Linked DNA regions of Homo sapiens: region 2 is linked to region 1. The links come from fine-mapping of genetic effects on gene expression. A gene starts in region 1. The other region holds a variant in brackets. All regions are shown on one strand. Distances are from middle to middle.

The links. PIP is the estimated chance that this variant, and not a neighbour inherited with it, causes the effect.
Region 2: its variant is fine-mapped to the expression of PAX8 in esophagus muscle (GTEx, PIP 0.94). The same link has a PIP of 0.9 or more in testis.

The regions. Positions count from the first base shown.
Region 1 is chr2:113,275,499-113,283,821 of GRCh38, reverse strand. PAX8 (paired box 8) reads left to right here and starts at 4,901. Exons shown (of 12, transcript NM_003466.4): 1 at 4,901-4,991; 2 at 5,353-5,452. The coding sequence starts at 5,428. RefSeq lists a promoter at 4,299-5,428.
Region 2 is chr2:113,231,357-113,239,679 of GRCh38, reverse strand. It overlaps PAX8 (paired box 8), which reads left to right. Exons shown (of 12, transcript NM_003466.4): 8 at 2,959-3,079; 9 at 4,098-4,286. PAX8-AS1 (PAX8 antisense RNA 1) reads right to left here and starts at 3,411. Exons shown (of 6, transcript NR_015377.2): 1 at 3,058-3,411. RefSeq lists a silencer at 3,995-4,074 and an enhancer at 4,325-4,514. The variant GGA/A (reference allele first, on the strand shown) is at 4,455.

The DNA of each region.
Region 1 (8,323 bases):
AAGGCAAAGCCTGAGTCACTGGTGCTTTATTTGGCCACCTAGTTGGCTGTCTGCTAGCTGGGTGGCCTTGCTCTCTACTTACCTTCCCTAGAATCCAGTTTCCTCATCTGCAAGATGGGTTGCCAAAAGGGTCTAGCTCATTTTTTCTAACTTAAAAAAAAAAAAAAAAAAAACTATGATTACTAGAGAAAAAAATTGAGCTGTGTACGTCAATCCTTTTATCTCCCTCTGTCACCTTCCTTTTTGTGTCCCCAGGAAGTTTTTTTTCCACCCATTTGTAAGTACCAGGGTCTCCTTCCAGAAGCCCAGGCAACTGCTGCCAAAGGCTGTGGGGTGGGCAAAGAGCCCAAGGGACAAGTGCCCAGGACACATCCCTACCCAAACCAACTGGACAAATGCCACCAGTGGTTTCTTCCAAACTGCCCTCGGCAGCCCAACCAGTGGCTCTTTTCCTTTCACCTGCCAGGACCTATATTTCTATTTCTGAGTTTTCAAAGCCTAGGGAGGTGGAGAACCTGGAATAATTAATGATTGATTTTCAGGCACTGCCACCAGGAGGCCCCAGGGCAGGCTGTCGGCCATTTCCTGAGTGCAGGGACAGGGTTGAAATCCCACGTGGCTTCGGCAGGATTGGGCAAGTCTGTGAGGGGAGAGGGTGGAGCGAAAACTGCCAGTGCCCTGAACACTTCTGCCCTCTGCAAAATGATGAAGTCGCTGCTGGAAGTTCTGCTGGGGTGCTGGCCTTCTGCCATTGACTCTCCCCTCTCTCTGGGTCAACGAATGTTAATTGCTGCCCTCACAGACACCCCTGCCCCACTGCTACCCTTGCACCCACGCCTGCACCCACAGGCACGGGCTCACTGGCCCTTTCCTCTCCAAGGCTCCTTTGGGAAAGGATTAAAGGAACCGACTTCCACAGCAAAACTTTAGGGACATTTTAACTTTGCCCTCTTTGGATGTATTCCTCTGCCTTTGTTGTCTAATAATAATTAACTTTTGTACAGAGGTGTAGTTTTCAAAGGGCCTTCACATTCATAATTTTATTCGTCCTCACAACAAAGCTACGAGGTGGGTCTGACCCTCCCCAGCCCCCCGTCTATATCCACATCATGCAGAAGGGGAAACTGAGGTTCGGGCAGAAGAAATCATCCCATTCTACACAATTAGGGCTGGAACACTCACCTCTGATGCAAAGTAGAGAGCTGCTGTTTTCTTCCTGAAGGGATGTACTTTAGTCCCAACAATGGTTCGTTACGTAGGGGAAGTGGCATGGTGGCAAGTAAGCCAGGAGGATTGTTGGGAGCAGTGGTCTTCCCTCGAGGCTGGTCTCTGGGCATTGTGCCCAGAGAAACCAGGGTACATAGGAGTAAGAGGAAGAGCTCATGGACCTACTGGAGTTCAAGGGTCTCAGTCACCTGAGCCAGCAGGTAGAATGACCCAAGTGTGCAAACAATCACCCACCCAATAGTCAGTTGAAACACGGCAGCTTATAAAAGACCCCCAAACCATCCCACTCCCACACTCTAATCAGCTAGGATGACCAATTCATCCTGATTTGCCCGGGAAAGTCCCAGTTTTAACTCGCATCTAGAAAACACTGTTGGTTTTCGTCCAGGGCAAACCAGGGCACTTTATTACCCTACCACCAGCCCAGTGCATTACAGCTGAGTCCAGAAAAGAAAGAACATCTTTTGAAGGCTCAGCAGATCAGCATAGAATTAAACAAATTGTGGGATATTATGCAAATTCAAAAACCACTGTAGTTAGGCAATTACCTAGGATTGTTGGAATGTTAAACCTGAAAGAATGTTCATTTCCACAAAGAAACGCTCAGATCTGCGGCCAGATCTCTTGCATTTTCAAAGGCAAGGCAGAGTTAGTCTCTCGTCTCTACTTCTGTATTTTGATATTGGCAATGAATTACATTTTCTCAAAAAAACACTGAGTTTAAAAAAATTATAACTAGTTGCCAGTTGATAATATTGCCACAAAAGCCTTATGGGCCTCAAGCCTGAGAAGAAAAGTTGGCAAATGAGGTATTCATTTTAAAAAGTGAGTTCTAAGGCCTGGCCAGGCACAGTGGCTCATGCCTGTGATCCCAGCACTTTGGGAGGCTGAGGCAGGCGGATCACTTGAGGTCTGGAGTTCGAGACCAGCCTGGCCAATGTGGTGAAACCCCGTCTCTACCAAAATATAAAAAATTAGTCAGGCATGATGATGCATACCTGTAGCCCCAGCTAGTCGGGAGGCTGAGGCAGGAGAATCACTTGAACCCAGGAGGTGGAGGTTGTAGTGAGCCGAGATCATGCCACCGCACTCCAGCCTGGGTGACAGAGTGAGACTAAGTCTAGAAGAAAAAAAAAAGAGTTCTAAAAGTCCCATTGAAAGTCTATTAGTCACAGTGCAAATTTATTTTAAAATTTCAAATATCATCATAGGAAGGCATATGATTTTTATTCTTAACTAAAAGCATCATGGATTTTAAGTTTGAAAAAATACTGTGATAATAGGTGATTTTAAAAATATATGTATTTCAAACCTTTCGTTTTGCAGAGGAGGAGACTGATGCCAAAGAGACAGAGTTAAAGCACCAGTTAATGACATTTCCTTGGCCTTGGTCTCAGAGAATTAGGAAGTACCAAGGAACCCAGGCCTGATTTCTGATTCTAATTAGAAGCAGGGTCAGTCCAGGAGGCCTGTGTTTATCTCTGCAGCAGAAGTTCACTGCATTCTCACTTCTTGCTCGTCCTAGATCTTCTCTGCTGAGTCTTCTGGTCACCTGCTATGTCACCTGCAGTCTGGAGAAGAGGTACTGTCAAGGTGTGGGGTGTGTTTTTCCCTGAGGAGTAACCTTGAACAGTGCACATTGTTTTTACCTTGAAATGAAATTTTAAAGATAAATTTATACATGGGACAGGAATGTTCTGATAACTTGCTGGATTTGTCCTCTAAGAAATTTTGCCCAAAAAGGGGATAGGAAAGGGAGAGGGTTCATTGCTTGGGCAGAAAAGATGTGCACAGGCAAGAATGATTGCATGAGAGTCAATGGTTATTGGTACGTATCAGAACCTTAGATTGGGTAGAATCTCTAAGGTTGTCAGAGCTGTTTGAAATGAGGGCGTATTAGATTCACCCTGGAGCATTGCCTCCCTGGTGGGAGGGAATCCTGGGTGGACAAAGAGAGTTTCTGCTGTGGCTGCCACACTCCACACCTCCCCTGCAGCAGGACACAATCCAGGGCAGCAAACTGGCCCATGGGGTCCGGAGGACCTATGCCAAGATCCATTTCCATCCCAACACCCTTGGATTGTCTCTCTCTGGGAGGGACTGCCAGAGAAGTTAGGGATCTGGAGCTTTGAAAACCACAGAGATATTTAAAATTACAATTTTAGAGAAAGATTTAAAATGATGAAGCACCAACTATTTTTGTTTACAGCCCCTCTTTGCAAATGTGGAGGAAACATGTAGGGATACACATCTTCTTCTCTCTTTTTTCACAAGATGATTCATTTCTCCTAAATTGAGAAATGAGAAAGACTGGGTGGAAGGAGGTTGTGGATTGACATGAAAGAGAAAACTTTTTTAATTCAGAAAAATAGTTCATGTGTTTTCACACACGTGTACATATGTGCATACACACACACACACACACACACACACACACATCCAATCCCCCTGAATATCCCAGTTTCCCCTGCACCTTCCTTGCCCCCCTCCCACTGGCTTCTTAGCCTCCTGTCCCAGAACAACCCCACCAGGCCTGCAGAGCCATCACTGAAAAGGGCATGGCTGTCCTCTAGACTGTAATCCTGAGTCCAGAGGTCTGGCCAAAGATTGGAGGAGCATCCAGGCCTTGACCCCCAGGCCTGCCAGTGTTCCAGGACATTTGCTCACTCATACCCACTCACAATCTTACGTGTACCCCGGTTCCCCGACTGAGAGAACTATGAGGAAGGAGGGGGCAGCTTTTGCCATCACTAAGGTAAAGAGGTGCCAGGCAGCTCTGCTCGGTCCCAGGGCTCACCAACCCTGCCATCATTCCCACCAGTGGACCCCTTCTTAACCACACCCAGGCCCCCATATTGCTGAGGCTATTGATTCCTACAGACCAGGCCAGAGGTCAGCTCAGTCCTGTTCCTTTCTAAGGCCTTTCCACACAGAGATGAAGTCTAGGCCCTCAATGCCCTTCCCCTGAACTCTTCTTCCAAGTTCAAAATCCTCAAGGAGCAAGAAAGAGGGCAGGTGGCTGCGTGTGTGTTCCAGAGGAGAGAGGCGAGGAGTTGCTGTGGAATGGGTTATGTGACAATTTTGTTAGCCTGACAATGCAAGGGTGTGAACGCTATCTGTGTAGAACAGAGGGAATGGCTTCAGGTGCTGCTCAGGATTCTTCCCTGGAAGAGGTCATAGCTGTGGTGAGAAGGTAATAGCATCTTGCCTACAGCCCCGAAAGCAGGCTCTACCTAAAGAATCAGGCATAAAACAGAAGTTCCCTCCTTCCTTTTACAAAAGAAAAGGCTGCTTCCTGGTGAGCAAACCAGGGGAGACAGGGGGCAAGGAGGGCATCCTACAGAGACCATCCCTCTCACTTCTGGTGGTCAGTGACCCAGGAGGACCCAGAGAACCTCATCCTCAGGCTCCTAGGCCTCTGTTCCCCACTCCTCCAATATTTCCAGGCCTGCTGAGTTAGGGCTCAGCTGCCTCCCTCTTCCCTCCGCTGGAAACAGAAGCTCCCAGCGAATGTTTCTAACTCCTGAGTCCACTCAGCCATGTCCCCCTTGCAAAATCCTCCCCTTCCCGCACCCCCCTGCACCCAGCCAGCCAATCCGCGGCCTACGAGCCTCGCCAGACCCATCTCCCAGGGCCTCAGCGGGATAAAACCGGTCGGTGATGCCGGGTGGATGGGAACAAACTTCAGAAGGAGGAGAGACACCGGGCCCAGGGCACCCTCGCGGGCGGACCCAAGCAGTGAGGGCCTGCAGCCGGCCGGCCAGGTATGTCACCCAGGGGTTAGCTGGAAGCTGGCTAGCAGTGAGGACGGGGGATGGAAGAAAGGAGAGGGTCCCAGGATGCCTGGCAGCCTTTTCCCTCCCAAGTTAAACGGGATAAGACTGGGACAGCGGAGGGAGTGGGCACGGAGGTTGGAGTCTGGAGCTTCTTCAGCGCACTCCCAATCCTTGATCCTCCCGGGAAGCCTGTTAGCTAGGCTAGGCTGAGGTTGGCCCTACTTCGCCTAAAAATCCTCCTACTCCTGGCAGACGATGCAGGTGTAAAGGATGAGGCCTGGGGAGGGGGCCTGAGGATGCAGGCATCGAATCTCATCGCATCTCATGCCCTTCTCCTGGGTTTGTGCAGGGCAGCGGCAGGCGCGGCCCGGACCTACGGGAGGAAGCCCCGAGCCCTCGGCGGGCTGCGAGCGACTCCCCGGCGATGCCTCACAACTCCATCAGATCTGGTAAGAACGCGGTGTGGTCAGGATCCCCGAGCCCCCGCGCCGCTGAGCGTCCGTGCGTGCGCTCGGGTGGTTGGATCTCGAGAGCGTCAGCACGGGATTCGCGGGACCCACCCGCGTGGGGACCCAGCTGGGGCGCCTGGGGCCTGGCCCTCCGCTGGAGCCGCCTCGCTGTTCTCGGGCACTGGGGTTCCACCCGGCCAGCTGAGCCGCCCTTGCCCGGTTTCGAGGGACCACATGGATCGGTGAGGGGATCTCTGTGGAGTTAGAGGGGGTTTCCTTTGAGCTCCATTCCCAGCCTTGCATGGCGCATTAGTGTGGACATTCTTCGTGCTCTGTCCCTGGGCTGCACCGGTGCTGGACTTGCCGTTTCCCCGTCCCCGACCTCTAAGTCCTCTTCCTCGGGTGCGCGCAGTCCTTCCCAGTGACTCCCCTGGCTGGACTGTGAGCTCCCCGCATCTCTCAAGCCAACGGCAATGGAGCCGGTGGTCCCGGGCCCGGGAGCCGGCAGCGCACTCAGGTGCTCTCCGACTCCTCCTGGCCCAGCACCGGGCAGGCCGGGCGCCGCGCGCGGGGCGTCCGGCTGGTGAGGACTAAGCCGCTCGCGGAGTCAAAACCCCCTCCCCACCTGCGCCCGGAAGCAGGGCCTTCAAACACACTCGAGCTCCCAGGCCGCGATGCCTGTTTTCCCCCTTCCCGGCCAGGGCTGGGCAGGGTCTTTGCTGGGAAGGAGCTCCAGGGTCAGGGCTGGTGGGCGCAGCCGTCCCGGCGCGCAGCGAGTGCGGACAGCGGTGGAGGCGCAGCGCGGCCCGCAGTGATGGATGGAGCCCGGCCGGCCGCAGAGAAGGCGATTTATGGGGCCAGGGCGCATCGCTATCGATTTGGGCCGGCGAAGTGAGAGGAAATCAATATTTCAGAATGAATTCTCCGCGAATATGATGTCCCGCTCTGCAAACGGGACATTTGTTATAATAAGGAGGGTCGGATCGGGCGCGCAGCGAGGCTGAGATCTCTATTTAGCCAAGCGCACTGCGGGGGCCCGGGCTCTGCGGCGCAGTCTCCAGTCCCAGGGCCATGGCCCAACTAGGAGGGGAGCGGGAACCCCCTGGGGCGCCGGAAGATTTCTCACTCGGGTTCTCTCTAGAGCTGCAGACGAATGCTCCCTCCCGGCCCCCATTCCCCTCAGAGACCTGGGCCAGAATCGTCCGGCTGCCCCCAGAAGGCGCGGGGTCCCTTCAAGGTCCTCAGGGGAGAGACCTCGCAGCCATTCCCCGGCGCGGCGGGGTTGGGGAGCCCTGGGACCGAGCAGAGCTCCCTGGCACCTCTTTACGGTCCGCGTCCTGGAACCACGAGCGCTCCTAGGCCACTATCTAAGGTCAGGATCAGGTTTTAGTCCCTTAATCTTTAGCCAAACCGTGGTACGATACCAGACATCGCCAGGACCATCCCTGAGGCCTAATGTGCAGTGCCCGGTGCCCATGCCAAGCTGGTGCAATGGCACTTCTGCGCCAAGCTGGTGCAATGGCACTTCTGCTCGGCTCTGGAGGTCCATCTTTCCTCCTAACCTTCCCCTGACCCTTCCGGCGGTGGCAGGAGGAGTGAGTGCTCTCGGAAATCAAATTCACTGTGGCCGGGCTGGACCCTTACTCTCTGCCGCTGCCCAAGAAATGAGACGATGTCCCCGTCCCTCAGATGAGCTTTTTTTTTTTTTCGCGGCTACTTATTTTCATTCTAGAAGTACTCGTTAGAATAGATGGAAATAGAGTATGGAAAGAATAAATAAAGGCACAATTTATTTTTACTGTAGTTTTAATCAGGAACAGTCCCAGATGATGAGATGCGCGCTTTCCCACTAGCTTGGATGCAAATCGCGCTTGGGTTTTGGGAGGGAGCCCTCTGCCCCTGGACCTACCAGGTAATTTTTTTCCCCTTTCTTCTTTTCGGGAAGACAGAGGGGCTTCTTCTACCCTCTTTCCAAAACAAATAGACAAAGTGGCGAGGGAGGGAAGATGAGACTTTCTTCTCATAGTTTAATTTAAACGCTAATAAAACAAGAAAATGGCCTATAACCGCATAGACTGCTGAAGGCGCTCCCTGTTTCTTTTCTGAACCCTCCCTCGGCAAACCTGAGGGAGAGGCCGTCTGTCTTTCTGATCAGCTTACCTGACACTGTTGTCTATAACCGGAGCTAAACTCATAAGCGGACCCCTCTGGTTTTTACAAGCCCATTATCTCTCGGGTTTTAGCAGGTTCCCCCTTTTCCCCAGGCACCTCTGTTCCTGAGACCGGCCGTGCTTAGGGAGCTCCCCTTGAGTTTTCTGTGAGCAGAGCCCGGGACGCAGGCGGCCACACGGCTTTCCGCGGGAGCGAGGCCGAGCGCACCCTTCCCAATAACCGGGGACGCTCGAGAAAACCTCCCCGCGCGGCCTCCGCCGCCCAGCCTGCCACGGGGTCGCCTCGTCGTTGGCTGGTCTTGCCTTGCAGAGAGTCTTAACGTTGTCTTTCCTACAGCTTTATTCTGCAGGAATGTTGAACGCGAATCATTTTAACGTGCGCAGGTCAGCGATGGGCTGAACGTTCCTTAAAATCGCTATTTTTGTTGCATCAGGGACGAAATTCTCTAAAGCAAAAACATTTTTAAAAAAATTCAAAGATGCAGAAGAAACGATAAATGCCCCATATATATAAAAGTGAAAACAATACTGTACCAATGAGGAAGAGAGTTTTGTAAAAGCAAGCAGGCTGGCTGTCATTAAAAGTTATCTTAAATAACTTGTCGCAGCCCACTCCCACCAGTCCCGAAAATAGTTCATTCAAGTGGTAAAATAAGACAAGGCAGAGGACGATGTCTCTAACTTCCCTGATGTGAGATCT
Region 2 (8,323 bases), 44 kb after region 1:
ACTGAGGTCCAGCAGTGTCCATAAATTATTCATTACCTCCTCAGTCAATCATTATTCACCCAGTCATTCACCTGGAGGGTGGTGAAGGCAGGGAGAACCAGCCAGTGCAAGGGCCCCTCATGTCCTGCCTGGCCTTTGCTTTTCCTACCTCTGGTAACTGACTGTGCTGCCAAAGTAACACTCCGTGCTCTCTCACCTGGGCATAGGAATGCCCTCTGGCTTGGGGAGCCAAGAAAGAAGCACAAGTATTCATACCTGACCTTAGGACAGGTTGTAACACAGCTATCTTTTCTGCAAAATCAACAAGTGGGGGACCAGGCATGGTGGCTCACACCTGTAGTCCCAGCACTTTGGGAGGCCAAGGTGGATGGGTCACCTGAGGTCAGGAGTTTGAGACCAGCCTGGCCAACAAGGCAAAATCCCATCTCTACTAAAAATATAAAAATTAGCCAGGCCTGGTGGCGTGCACCTGTAATCCTAGCTACTCGGGAGGCTGAGACAGGAGAATCGCTTGAAGCTGGGGGGCGGAGGTTGCAGTGACCCGAGATTGTGCCACTGCACTCCAGCCTGGGTGACAGAGCGAGGCTCCATCTGAAAAAAAAAAAAAAAGGGCAGGGGGAAGTGTTCATCAGAAACATCATGTGGCCTTATTCCTGGTTGCTATTTCATGACCAGACATAGCTAGAAGTCATACAGCTCTTGTTTCCCTATTTTACAAATGCATCAAAAAAAATCAACAGAATATGAATATCAGTTTATTGACAGAAATCAAGAATTTGGTGGCTTCTGACTCTTCACGATTCTGAAATAATATCTGTGATAACTCTCATTGGGCATCTGCTGTCACCAAGTATTCGGTGCTAAGCACATTATGTATAAGTATACAAAATTTCATGTAATGCTTACGTCAGCCTCATAAAGTAGAGTCTATGATTCCCATACAGGTGAGAAAATTAAGGTTCAGAGCAGTCAAGTAGACTAAAGCTACTTGGCAGGTCATTGCAGAACCAGGGCTCAGAGTCGCTGAAGTTCTGAAGCATTGTGCTGCTCTGCCCCGATTCAAGTTCAATTCCAGCTAAAAAGCCCAATAATCACTGGGAAGTTTCAGTCATTGAATACAAAATCACCAAAAGATTTGACTATATAGGTTTTCTTTTTCCTTTTTTTCTAAGTTACTTGGATTTTGAAATAGCTATAGGATTCTGAGTAGATATTTTGCTGTCAAAACAACACATCCATAAAGCATTTTAAACTTCTCTTATACGCTCTAGAAATTAGGTATTTTGTTCAATTTCAATAAGACACACCCTGGCCAGGTGCAACGGCTCATGCCTGTAATCCCAACACTTTGGGAGGTCAAGCCAGGCAGATCATGAGGTCAGGAGTTTAAGACTAGCCTGGCCAACATGGTGAAACTCCTGTCTCTACTAAAGATACAAAAAATTAGCCTGGCATGGTAGCACGCACCTGTAATCCCTGCTACTCGGGAGGCTGAGGCAGGGGAATCACTTGAACCCAGGAAGCAGAGGTTGCAGTAAGCGAAGATCGCACCATTGCACTCCAGCTTGGGCAACAAGAGCAAAACTCCGTCTACAAAAAAAAAAAAAAAAAAAGGCCCTAAGCAACTCCACCCTGCCTCTAAGTGGGCCCCCTTGGAAGGCATGGAACCAGAGCACCATTTAGTCAATAATTGCTGCTATGTGCTAATGGTGCCCTGGTGGCCTCCAGAATTGACTGCAGCTTCCAAAAGTGCCCAGCATGCAACCGGAAAGTGCTGTGGATCTTTGCAGAACCCAGCTCGATGGAAATCACTGAAAACAATTGCCTTTAGTGGCACTGTTATGTAACTACTGAGCATTCCCTGAATTCAGCTTTGCACATCTCACGTAGCAGGTATGTGACGAGTGTGAAGGTATGTGGGGAATGGGTGTGTTCTTTTTTCTGCGCTATCTGCTTCCCCAGTGGAAGGAGGCCATGGTGAGGATGAGGTACACTTACCTTTAGTTAAACAAGTTCTTTTCGGAAGGAGTACCTAAGGTCATAGCTGTGCTCCTGGGAAGGGGAGGCCAGGAGGCATCTAAAATGAGGTCTTACTGATGAAGACCCCCAGGTACTTGACAAAGAGTGTTTCCAACAAAAACAACTCTCAATACCATTTTCAAGCCGAACTTGCACACTTCTATTTGTTTGGATGTGGAGAGAGAAAAGAAGAAATCCACGTGGTGGGTAAAGCACCTGGGTCCACAGCCGAAAAATCCCGGGTTTAGTCTGTTTCACTATACAAAATTGGGCCATTTACCTGAGTTCCAGGCTCCACATATAAAACACAGACATAATATTACTCACCCATGTCACTGGGCTGCTGGGGGACTCTACTAGGACAACAGAGGCAAAGCTCTGATATAAGCTCTTTGCAAATGTAAGAAGTGGTCCTTATGTCACCCAGTTTAGGGCAGTGGTTGAGAGCAGACACATTCTGATCCCTCGAATCTGAATCCTATCTTTGGCCCATCTGGAAGTGGGACAAGTTTCTTAAACCTTTGTGCCTGGGTTTCCTATCTGGGGAAGAATAAATTAACAGATGCAAGGACCCTGAACAGTCCGGTTGGAGACTGCTCCAGTCCTTGGCACCGTCCTGCATTCTGTGGGTCCCAACAGTGTGGTGAAACCAGGAAGCCGACCAGCCATCCAACCAGGGTGTGGTCCTCTGGCTGAGACTCTCTATCCCACGTCTGGGCACCCATGCTACCAGCTGGCCTTGAATTCCAGGGATGCGGGAGGACAATGAGCATGAACGAAACGTGCCGAGTGGAGTTGAGAACGTAAAGGAAGAAGGGGGCGATGAGGACCTCTCCTGGGGAGATGAGGGCTGCCAAGTCCTAAGACACAGGCTCAGGGTCTGCAGGAAGGTCGGCTTGTTGGATCGTCTCTGTGCGCTGACTTCTCTTTGCTCCCCAGGGCCTCTACCCGCTGCCCTTGCTCAACAGCACCCTGGACGACGGGAAGGCCACCCTGACCCCTTCCAACACGCCACTGGGGCGCAACCTCTCGACTCACCAGACCTACCCCGTGGTGGCAGGTACAACGCCCGGAGCCTCCCTGGCAGGTGGAGGGCGGGGGACTGAAGAGCTTGGCTGGCTGTCAGGCGGAAGGTGTGGGGCCCTGGCCTGGAGAGGAGAGGCGGGCTGTGCCGGCCGGGCCGCCAGGTGGGCCCAGGGGTCGCGCCTCCGGTCCTAGGCCGGGCCTCAAGGTGGGCCGAGGGGTCGCGCCTCCAGTCCTAGGCCGGGCCTCAAGGTGGGCCCAGGGGTCGCGCCTCCGGTCCTAGGCCGGGCCTCAAGGTGGGCCGAGGGGTCGCGCCTCCAGTCCTAGGCCGGGCCTCAAGGTGGGCCGAGGGGTCGCGCCTCCGGTCCTAGGCCGGGCCTCAAGCTGGGCCGAGGGGTCGCGCCTCCGGCCCTAGGCGGCTCCCGTAAGGTGGGCCGAGGGGTCGCGCCTCCAGTCCTAGGCCGGGCCTCAAGGTGGGCCCAGGGGTCGCGCCTCCGGTCCTAGGCCGGGCCTCAAGGTGGGCCGAGGGGTCGCGCCTCCGGTCCTAGGCGGCTCCCGCAAGGTGGGCCGAGGGGTCGCGCCTCCGGTCCTAGGCCGGGCCTCAAGCTGGGCCGAGGGGTCGCGCCTCCGGTCCTAGGCGGCTCCCGCAAGGTGGGCCGAGGGGTCGCGCCTCCAGTCCTAGGCCGGGCCTCAAGGTGGGCCCAGGGGTCGCGCCTCCGGTCCTAGGCCGGGCCTCAAGGTGGGCCGAGGGGTCGCGCCTCCGGTCCTAGGCCGCTCCCGGGTCTCCGCGCTCCCTCCTGTGGGAGAGGCGGGCGCACACACGCCTTCCGGGTCTCTCCATTTTCGCTGCAGAAGCGCAGCAGGGAGGTCTAGCTTCTCTCTCCCCGCCTTGCCACGCCTCGTGGGCCCCGGCTCTCCCCAGCCCAGACTCTGAGGGCAGCTGAGCCTGCCCCGCGCCCCGCCCGCACCCTCCACATCCCACGGCTTGGCTTGTGCGTGTTCCCTCCCCGCCATCTCACACCCCTCTCTCCTTGTTGTCTCCCTCCCTCCGGCAGATCCTCACTCACCCTTCGCCATAAAGCAGGAAACCCCCGAGGTGTCCAGTTCTAGCTCCACCCCTTCCTCTTTATCTAGCTCCGCCTTTTTGGATCTGCAGCAAGTCGGCTCCGGGGTCCCGCCCTTCAATGCCTTTCCCCATGCTGCCTCCGTGTACGGGCAGTTCACGGGCCAGGCCCTCCTCTCAGGTACGACAGGGAGGTCCCGGGGCCATGCAGCTATGGCGGCGGGTGGGACGGGGGTCCTCAGGGCAGACCGCCAGCCCCCTCTCTGGCCTCAGTCTCATCCACCCCCACCCTGTTCCCTAATTCCTCCGGCAACTTTTGGAGGCGCCAACATGAAGTTCTCTGTGACGG[GGA/A]AGACATGCTCGGAAGGGGCGGATGCTGTAGGGGTGCCGGGGATGCACCACCCCAAGACCCCATGGAAAAGCAGGAACCCTAAGGCCGGGAGCCGGGTGCTGTAACGTAGCAACTTGGCCTTGGTAAATGCATAAATAGATAGAAGGAAAAATGAACATTTTGGAGGGAAAAAGGAATTGGCTTTTGGAGCCCATTTCTGGATCAAATTTCTAAAAAGGCCAAGGGTCAGTCCCAGTTGTGTTTCCATGATGCAGCTATCTTCATTCCTAGCTTAACAGCATCACCGGGAGGACAGTCAGACATCTGTTAAACATGATAAATTCAGTGATTCAACAACTTGAGAGGAGTGGGGGACCTCCCATCAGGAACCTCAACTGCCTCAAAATATTTAAAGCTGGAAGCACCGACCGGGCGAGGTGGCTCACCCCTGTAATTCCAGCAGTTTGGGAGGCCGAGGCAGGTGGATCACAAGGTCAAGAGTTCAAGACCAGCCTGGCCAAGATGATGAAACCCCATCTCTACTAAAATTCAAAAAATTAGGGGGTGTGGTGGCAGACACCTGTAATCCCAGCTACTGGGGAGGCCGAGGCAGGAGAATCGCTTGAACCCAGGAGGCATAGGTTGCAGTGAGCTGAGGTGGCGCCATGGCACTCCAGCCTGGGTGACAGAGCAAGACTCCATCTCAAAAAAGAAAAAAACAAATAAATAAAAATAAGTAAATCTGGAAGCACCTGAGGGAGCCTCTAGATCAAACCTCTTATGCTGATGAGGAACCTGGCCCAGGGAGGAGAAGGTCCCTGCCAAGGTCTCTGGGCAGGAGCACCATCTGTAGCTGGTTGAGGCCTGGGCCTGCACTGCATGAGTCAGACCTCAAGGGGAGCTGGCTCCTCCTGGCAGAAGGACCTTCGCTCATCCAGCCAGGGCCTGAGGAATGGCTGAGAGTCAAGCGCTTGGCTTGGGTTGGAGAGGGCCTGAGATGCAGTGAAAGTGGGAAGCAGAGACCCATATGGTCTTCAGATACCTCAAGGGCTTCCACAGGGATAGGACTATTTTAGATGTGGGCCCAGTGGGGGCCCAGGACCAGGGAAGGAAGCCAGCTAGCTCTCAGTTCAGCATTGGAGGAATCTCTTTAATAGCGGCACTGTCTCCAAGGAGTGTGGGTATTTAGTGACAGAAGTAAATGCCTCTTCACCTCCCACACCCTCCTACCCCGACGACCTTGAAATGCTGGAGCAGAGACCAGTGCGTGGGTGGGGTGTGTGAGACCTGTCACAGAGGCAGCCCAGAGTCAGACAGTCCATCTGGACCAGTGGTTTCAAATTTGGGCCTCTCAATGCTCTCTTGAAATGAAGCCTTTTACAGAAGACATGTATGCTCACCAGACCCCTGAAGAACTGCTCTTTTAGAAGGGGTCCCTGCCCCTAGAAAGCCCTTGGACTTCGAAACCACTGCACCAGAGGATTAAGACCTCTACAAGCCCAGAGTAACCACAGGGTCATGTGATAAAAGTCCCTGGACCCTTTTTTTTTTGTTTTTTTGTTTTTTGAGATGGAATCTCACTCTGTTGCCCAGGTTGGAGTGCAGTGGCGCGATCTCAGCTCACTGCAACCTCCACCTCCTGGGTTCAAGTGATTCTCCTGCCTCAGCCTCCCGAGTAGCTAGAACTACAAATGGGCGCCACTACACCCGGCTAATTTTTGTATTTTCAGTAGAGATGGGGTTTCACCATGTTAGCCAGAATGGTCTCAATCTCCTGACCTTGGTCCGCCCACCTTGGCCTCCCAAAGTGCTGGGGTTACAGGTGTGAGCCACTGCACCCAGCCCATGGACCCTTTTTTATAACTGGCTCTACATTTTCTTTCTGGCTGGCACCCGGGTTTTTTTTTTTTTTTCCTCCGTACATCCCAGCACCTAATGTGAGAAGTTTCCTTAGAAGAGAGGGACATCCAGTGTGTGGGCAGAGAGATGGTGTTTAAGGGTCTAAAGCGAGGAGTTGACTTGGAGTTCAAGAATTCAAGAGGGTGAAGGCAGCAGAGATGGGTCATTTGTTTTGACCAAAGTGATGAAAAGAGCAAAACCTGTGAGCTGAGTAAAATTATGTCAGCCAGAGAAAATGGGATGCGGGGTAGGGAGGGGAATGAGAGGATAGTGGAGAGGAAGGGAGGGGAAGGGAAGGGAGGGGAGGGGAGGGGAGGGGAGGGGGTGAGGAGAAGAGGTTCATGTCAGTTACAGGGAGTTACGCAAGCCTGCATGTCTTCTGAGAATGGCAGGCTAGAGCTGGCGGCGGTCATGGGGCAGGCAAGGGGTGAGGGTGTGGTGGTGCCCATGATGATGGGGAGCAGGTGCTGTGGAAGCCGCGGAGAAGCTTGGCAAGACCAGCTGAAGGAGAGGGAAGGATGTAGGGCAGCTGGAAGTGGATAGATGTATCAGAGTGCAGACATAGGCTGTAGTGTAAAGTGCAACTGGAACAGCCCAGGGCAAACTCCCTACTCCCAAAGCCCCTACACTTTGTCCCCTCCCTGTCATCCTGTTAGCATCCCCTGTCAACATGCAGTCAATCAGAGGTGACGCCTCCAACTACTGTCAGCTGTTAATTTAGTGGACATGCCCACTCTCCAGGCCAACTGCAGGACTGAGAGGTCACCCAACCCATGGGACAAAACAGCTGGCAGCAGACACCAGGTAGTCATGTAGGAAGCAGGCAGCCAAATATGCAGCACCGGCATATCTTTCAGGCTGGTGGCCCCCAATCCAGGCCCAGATGATGCTGAAGTGCAGGTGTGAGCACTTTGAAGGTTGCTGGCTGGTCACAGGGCCCCCTAGCCCAAGGGTTGACAATTCAGCACAGAGGCAGAGGCTCTGAAAAGAGTGAGGAGTGCTAGCCTTGGAGGATCTGGGGTCCAGGCAAATGGCCAAGAGTAGGAAGCAAGTCAGAAAGCAGCTCAGGCACAAGGGAGGGGATGGCTGGTGTCCATGCTGAGCTCAGGGTGTTGGCCTGGAGCTCCTTACAGACTGTCCACCTGAGGCCTCTGGTCAAGACTGGATCTCAATACCTAACACGTGGCTGAGCCATGGTGAGAGAGCTGGGAGGACATGACGGGGGGCGGTGGGGAAGGTTAGGAAGGGAATGGTTCCAGGAGCGCAGGAGGCTGCAGACCTTCCCAAGAAGAGGTGAATTTGAAAGAAAGAGAAGGAACCTGGGCCCAATGGCTCACACCTGTAATCCCAGCACTTTGGGAGGCCAAGGTGGGTGGATCACCTGAGGTCGGGAGTTCGAGACCAGCCTGACCAACATGGAGAAACCCCATCTCTACTAAAAATACAAAATTAGCCAGGCGTGGTGGCACATGCCTGTAATCCCAGCTACTCGGGAGGCTGAGGCAGGAGAATTGCTTAAACCCAGGAGGCGGAGGTTGCGGTGAGCCGAGATCGTGCCATTGCACTCCAGCCTGGGCAACAAGAGCGAAACTCCATCTCAAAAAAGAAAAAAATAATAAAGAAAGAGAAGGAAGTTGAGGCCACATTATTCCTAAGTAATGCTGCAGACCAGGAGAGAGGAGAGAGGACACAGTGAGTTTTCATTCCATAATCAGCTCAGCTTTAACCCGCGTGAATCTTCCACATGCCTCTGAGTGACTCCCAAGGACCCTCGCTGCCGCCTCCTGCAACTCCTTCACTACTTCATAGCGTTTTTCTCTGGGTCACTTATTTCCGCCTGGTGGCTCTGATAGTGTGATTTCCAAGGTGACTATCCTTCTGAGTCTCAGCTCATCCCCAGTCAGCCAAGAAAGAAGAAACAGCAAGGTTTGGGGAATAGCAAGAGTGCCCCTAACATTGCTGCCAGTTCCCTTTGGAAGCCCCAGTCT